Linked DNA regions of Homo sapiens. The protein of the gene in region 2 purifies or fractionates together with the protein of the main gene of each other region. This does not show direct contact. Each region holds a gene or a part of one and is shown on either strand. Other genes may lie near its edges.

Region 1 (3,652 bases), on a different chromosome or scaffold from region 2:
CCTTTGGAACTAGTTCCTAACATTTTATTCTTGTTAACGAAGCCAGATCCCTTAGGGTATCTTTTTTCTGGCAAATGTTGCCTTTCTTGTTCAGTTATTCCACTTGTTATGACATAAGGGCAGTTTTCTTTTTGCAAACCATCAATATCTAAATCAAGTCTCCGTTTAACTTTCTCAAAACTGTTATCCAAAAATTGTTCATTTCCACAGGACACCATAGGTGTGTCCATCTGCTGTCTCGTATTCTGGTTTTGCATCAATAAAGGAGAAGGGTTTTTTACATCATAAGACTTATTCAGTTCTGTTTGCAAACTGCAGTTTTTCTCTAACATACTGGCTGGCTTGAGTCCACTCACAGTTCCAAAGTTTGGACTTGCTATACACTGACTGCTGGCATATGGTTCATGCAGCTTTGGCATCGCAGCACAGGTACTGTTCATTATGTGTGCGCCTCTCTCATCGGATGTTAACTGACCTTCCACAGTAACAAGTCCATGAGTAACTTTATTTTCTAAATGATTTCCTGAAGATTGACATACCTGATTTGATTTACCTAAAACCACATCTTCTTTGACTTCAGATGTATTTTTGCCCACATAAACCTTGCTTGAACAAACTCCCGCTAAATCAGTTGGTAACTTTGGCATAATTTCGGGCACATTTGTGTTTTCATCAGTATCTTGAATAATTAAGTCCATTGCCTGTTCTTTTCCTTTAGGGCTTAATTCACAGGCATTTATTGGGTTATTTATAAGTATATGACACGCTGATGATGTCCTGGAACGTCTTCGGTGCATTTTAGGACTCATACTTGGCTCTGGACTAGGTAATTTGGCATATGAACCTGTAAGACTTTTGATAACATTATTTTCGGTAACAAAAGTGGGAATAACTTTAAAATCAGAATTAGACTCTAGAACAGTGGGATGGCCAGTTCGTATAGGTATGTCCACTTTCGAAAAGCTAGCTAAAACTGGCATACTCATGCTGCTTGCTTGAGTGGAAGCACCTTGGAGAAGAACATTTGATTTATTAAGGCTTGGTTTGTCAGGAATAACTGAGACACAGTGTTTGCCTGTCAACTGGCCTTTCTCTTTTACACAGTCAGCCACTTCAACAGCATCATGTTCTTTGTCTAAATGACTCTCATTAACAATTCTGTTGATACTACCTCTCAGACTGCGTCTAGATTGTTCTCTTTCTATATATTCCTTTGACTTTTTCATCAGATTCTGAAGACTCATTACATAGGGATCTGGGATGACTTCTGCCAAAAGTGGTAGATCCTGTTGTTCATTTACTGAGAAGGGACCATCAGAAATAAGAGTTTCTTGTGGGGTTGCTGAAGAGGTCTTTGGAAAAGCTTCATTTTCTACATGACTAATATTGGAACTATCACATTGCTTCGGAGAATTAAATCCTTCTGAATCTCTAGCTAAGTCTATTCCATCAGTTTTACATTGGTCCTCATTATCCAATGGCAAAATCCCAGCTATCTTATCAAGCTTTGCTGCAGTAGAGTGTTCCGTATGGCTTGGAAAGCTATTTGGAAATGTAGCAGGAACATTCAAGTTTCTGACTTCTGAATTAGAGTAAACTGTTTCCATCTCCCACTGATCAAAATCACTGGCATTAGGTGCTTTTCTAACCTGAAACAGGAAATTTAAAAATTAATATTTCCTCATTGCACAAAAAGTCTCTGATTTCACTGTTTTCTAAAATAAAATTGAAATTGAAAATTCAGAATTCTGACATTTCAAAACATAAAGAAAAACTAAGATGACAGGTTTCTACGGTATCCTGTATCACAGGGGGCTCAAATTATTATTGAAAAGATGCCTACTGGTCATCCTGCCTAAGTTATTAAAAGAGTTATAAAAGAGTTATAAAAAGAAACATCTAATCTGATACAAATATGAACATATATATGTGTATACACACACACATATATTCATATATCCATGTGCAATTTAATCTTAGAATACAAGCACTTAAATTTCTTCTAGTCATATGTTATTAACATTACCAACTGTTCCTCCTAGGATAGCTATCATCCAAGGATAATAATATATGCAATAAACAGCAAGTAATGAAATGTCTTACGTAAACGATTCCCTCTCTAACAAAGACTAACTTGTCCAGGACATTGATTAAGCAAAAATGATTCAGTAATAAGACTCCTGCACCTACATGCTTACTCCAAAGTTTAACTAAACTTTGTCTCAAAAATGAATGAATGAATGAATGAATGAATGTAAAAATAGATATTTTGTATCTAAATAATCCAACTTTGCAAAAGAATAAAAAGAGAACTAGGATAGTTTCTAAAGGTAATTATACATCCGTATATTAAACTGGCAAAAATCATTGTATTATCATATGAATACAGACATCAAAAGCCTGACTACTGGCGGGGCATGGTGGCTCACGCCTGTAATCCCAGCACTTTGGGAGGCCGAGGCGGGCGGATCATGAGGTCAGGAGATCAAGATCATCCTGGCTAACACAGTGAAACTCCATCTCTACTAAAAATACAAAAAATTAGCTGGGCTTGGTGGTGGGCACCTGTAGTCCCAGCTACTCAGGAGGCTGAAGCAAGAGAATGGCATGAATCTGGGAGGCGGAGCTTGCAGTGAGCCAAGATCACGTCACTGCACTCCGGCCTGGGCGACAGAGCGCGACTCCATCTCAGAAAAAAAAAAAAAAAAAAAAAAAAGTCTGAATATTACAATATTTTTTGGTTGTTTTGAATGTGCTTGTTTTTTTCTAGACCACATGGCTCTCCTATTTTACGTTACAAATCCCAAGACAGGTAATGGTTTCCAGGTACTATGCAATACACAGTACAATAAGACATACTTAGTCACAACCTCAGAACCAAAATAAAACAAAAAAGATGCAAAAAGGTTTCCAGGTACTATGCAATCAACAGTACAAGAGTACAAGACATACTTAGTCACAGCCTCAGGACCAAAATAAAACAAAAAGGATGCATATTTATGAAATCCATGAACATGTTCACAGGTTTAAGTAAAACAGATGATTTCCTTACGTAAAATATTTCACATTTGTGATATTCGGAAGCTATGTTGTTTATACGTCACTAAAATGAGCCTTTAGTTAGACAAGTTAAATAACAACAAGAAAAAAATCTATCATAGAATCTTAGGTTTTACAGGTGAAGCAGAAATCTAATTGTATTATATAAAATTTTCCTATCTGAATAATTAATTCATTACAGTTCAACATTATACATGCTCTTTTAACAATTTTATTAGTAGTATATTTTATCTTCCCTCAATGGACCAAGAATGATATGCCATTTTCATTTCAATCACAGGAAATACGTAGTAAGTAAAAAACCTACCTCTTATTGTTAAATTAGTGCTACTCAATACATTTTTTAAACTTAATATGGACAGTAATTATAATCTGCAAAATGAAATCTACTACCCACACACTATATACTACTGTGAAAGGGAAATAATATCTCAGGACCCCAAACTCAACTATGTCACATGAGAGTCACTATGACTCTCATTAACAATTCTCTTAATACTACCTCTCAGCCTGCGTCTAGATTGTTCTCTTTCTATATATTCCTTTGACTTTTTCATCAGATTCTGAAGACTCATTACATAGGGATTTCGAG
Region 2 (3,652 bases):
CCTCTGCCTCCTGGGTTCAAGCGATTCTCGTGCCTCGGCCTCCAAGTAGCTGGGATCATAGGCGCGTGCCACCATGCCCAACTAATTTTTTGTATTTTCAATAGAGACGGGGTTTCTCCATGTTACCCAGGCTAGTCTCAAACTCCTAGCCTCAAGTGATCCGCCCACCTCGGCCTCCCAAAGTGCTGGGATTACAAGTGTGAGCTGCCACACCCGGCCTATTGGTTTTTTAGAGAATTGTATAATAGTGTATCATAGTAGTTTTGTTCAGTCAACACAGCTGGAAAACTTGAGAGAAGCCTTCGTCTGTCTGATGTGTTAACAGATATTCCTCCAGAGCAGGTAGTCCTAGCCTGGAAAGGTGCCTGAGTAAGAGTATCACCTACTCAATGTTACCTTGGTAAGTGATTGACAAGGAAGACTCCAAGGGAACAAGAGGGTAAGGCAGGGAAACAAGTTGATAATCATTTGTGGTGACTTATTCCAGATAAGAATGGCTGAAGGCAGCTGTGGTCCAATGGGAACGGTCTTAGGGTTTGGAGGTCAGAAGGTGTAGGTTTGGGTTCTACCTCTGCCACTTGTTAGCTAAGTAATGTTAAATCACCTACCTTGGTTTCTTGGCTGTAAAATGAAAATTATAAAATAGTATAAAATAGTAATATTTTATACTATTATTTTTTACTATTTATAGTAATTATTTTTATACTATTATTGTACACTTATGTGTCAGGTACTGTTTTAAACACATTGCATAACAGGTTATTCCTCATAGCAACCCTATATATTGTGATATTATTATATATATTTTTAAGTTTTATTATTATTATTATTATTATTACTTTTAGAGATGGGGTCTTGCTACGTTGCCCAGGCTGGTCTTGAACTCCTGGGCTCAAGCAGTCCTCCCGCCTTGGCTTCCCAAAGTGCTGGGATTACAGGCATGAGCCACCTTGCCCAGCTGATACTATAATGCCTGTTTTGCAGATAAGGAAACTGAAGCTCAGAGAGGTTAAGTAACTTATGCAGGATCACAGCGAGTATGTAGTGAAGCTACTTTTGAAACCCAAAGTATCTCAGTTATGCTGTACTACCTCTCTTGAGGATAATGATGCTCAAAAAAGTGCTTTGCGAATTGTAAAACACCTACCAATAGTGACTAAAATACGTGAGGATATTCAGACAGTACACAGATAACAAATTAAGGAGACAATGGTGGGGCCAGGGGAAGAGGAACTCTCCCAGATATGCTTTAAGGCAGATCCTCTGAAGAGAGACCCTCTTAAGGAAATAATATATTTTCTTTAGAATTCTCTAATATTTATTATAGAACTACTGTGTTCAAGACTCTATAAGGTCGGGCGCGGTGGCTCATGCCTATAATACCAGCACTTTGGGAGGCCGAGGCGGGCAGATCACTTGAGGTCAGAAGTTCAAGACCAGCCTGGCCAACATGATGAAACCTTGTCTCTACTAAAAATACAAAAATTAGTGGGTGTGGTAGCGTGCTTCTGTAGTCCCAGCTACTCAGGAGGCCGAGACAGGAGAATCTCTTGAACCCAGGAGGTAGAGGTTGCAGTGAGCTGAGATCTCGCCACTGTACTCCAGCCTGGGCAATAGAGCAAGACTCTGTCTCAAAAAAATAAATAAGTAAATAAAGACCCTGTGGCAGGCACCACCTCATTATATCTCATCTAATCCTTTTCCCTGTTTTGGGATTTTTCAAAAAATTCTCTTAGAAAACCAAATGGTACTTAGAAAACCAAAACCAAGTTACTACCTCCCTAAAAGATAGGTAGTCTAACAATTATATCTTGCTGTATTGCTGTATGGTTTGAGGTTTTGTTGATGTGTCTTAGCATGGGATGATAAACTGAACTTCAGTGGAACTTGTTTTAAAGAAGTTACTGTATTTGTACCTTGCAGGCATAAAGGATTACAAATTTGAGAGATTTTATGTGGCCCTTTTAAAATGGCTTTGACTTGTTTTATTTTTTTGCGTGTCCTGGCCTGTTGTGGGGCATTTTAAAAAGTTAATTGAATTGGCCGGGTGGGGTGGCTCATGCCTGTAATCCTAGCACTTTGGAAGGCTAAGGCAGGCGGATCACTTGAGGTAAAGAGTTTGAGACCAGCCTGGCCAACATGGTGAAACCCCATCTGTACCAAAAATATATAAAAATTAACTGGGTGTGGTGGTGTGCGCCTGTAATCCCAGCTACTTGGGAGGCTGAGGCAGGAGAATTGCTTGAACCGAGAGGCGGAGGTTGCAGTGAGCCGAGATCATGCCACTGCACTCCAGCCTGGGCGACAGTTCAAGACTCCGTCTCAAAAAAAAAAAAAAAAAAAAGGCTTAATGAGTTAATTGACTTTTGCTGGAAGGCCAACTGATGTAGTAAAAATGGCCTGGGCTTTCCAGTGGTCATAGGTTCCAATCCCAATTCTGCCACTGTTGTAACTCAGTGACCTTGAGGAAGTTACGTTGTGACTTTGGTTTAATAATTTGTAGAAGGGGATTAGTAATAGCTTATTGGATTATCCTAAGGAATATGTAAGATTATATATTAAATTTCCTAGCGTGGTGCCAGCCTCAAAGGAGCTCTGCTCTGGATTGAGCCAAAGCTGTTTTCAGCAACTGTGTTGTATGGGGGCACATAAACGCAGTTGTATGCTTTTTCAAGAACCAATAAGAAGCAATAAAGAGATAATTGGAGGTGTGATTTTCCCTCCACAGGGCTGTGCTTAAGAGTAAAACTTCAGCGATGTTTACCATTTAAACATAAGGTAAGAAAGATGTATTTTTGTTGTTGTTGTTGTTGTAAAACAGCTTTGTTGAGATATAATTCACATACCACACAATTCACGTATTTAAAGTGTACCAATTCAGTGGTTTTTGCTTGTCTGTTACTCAGTTGATGGACATTTAGGTTGTTTCTACTTTTTGTCTATTATGAGTAATGCTGCTATGAACATTCATGTATAAGTTTTTGTGTAGGCATATATTTTCATTTCTTTTCCACCTGTGAGTGGAATCGCCCGGTCCTATGGTAACTCTGTGTTTAACATTTTGAGGAATTGTTTGTTTTCCACAGTGGCTGCACCATTCTGCGTTCCCACTTCTCCACATCCTTGCTAACATTTATTATTATCTTTGATTACAGGCATTCTAGTGGGTGTGAAGTGATGGTTTTTTGTTTTTGTTTTTTGAATCAGAGTCTCACTGTCACCCAGGCTGGAGTTCAGTGGCGCCATCTCAGCTTACTGCAACCTCTGCCTCTCAGGTTCAAGCGATTCTCCTGCCTCAGCCTCCCGAGTAGCTGGGACTACAGGTGCCCACCACCACGCCCAGCTAATTTTTTGTATTTTTAGTAGAGACGGGGTTTCACCATATTGGTCAGGCTGGTCTTGAACTCCTGACCTCATGATCCACCCGCCTCGGCCTCTCAAAGTGCTGGGATTACAGGCATGAGCCACTGTGCCTGGCCTTGTTTTTGTTTTTGAGACAAAGTCTTGCCCTGTCGCCAGGCTGGAGTGCAGTGGTGCAATCTCGGCTCACTGCAACCTCCGCCTCCAGGGTTCAAGCGATTCTCGTGCTTCAGCCTCCCAGGCAGTTTGGATTATAGGCATGTACCACCATTCCCGGCTAATTTTTTTTTAT

The links.
Region 1: the proteins of CIAO2A (region 2) and CCP110 purify together in Homo sapiens (affinity purification with mass spectrometry; one large-scale study listed by BioGRID and IntAct). This does not show direct contact.

What each region holds. Positions count from the first base shown.
Region 1 is NC_000016.10:19,533,937-19,537,588, reverse strand, and holds part of CCP110 (centriolar coiled-coil protein of 110 kDa), read right to left. Parts: intron 1,650-3,652; coding exon 2-1,649; intron 1-1.
Region 2 is NC_000015.10:64,080,228-64,083,879, reverse strand, and holds part of CIAO2A (cytosolic iron-sulfur assembly component 2A), read left to right. Parts: intron 1-2,728; coding exon 2,729-2,778; intron 2,779-3,652. UniProt on the Homo sapiens protein: Component of the cytosolic iron-sulfur protein assembly (CIA) complex, a multiprotein complex that mediates the incorporation of iron-sulfur cluster into extramitochondrial Fe/S proteins.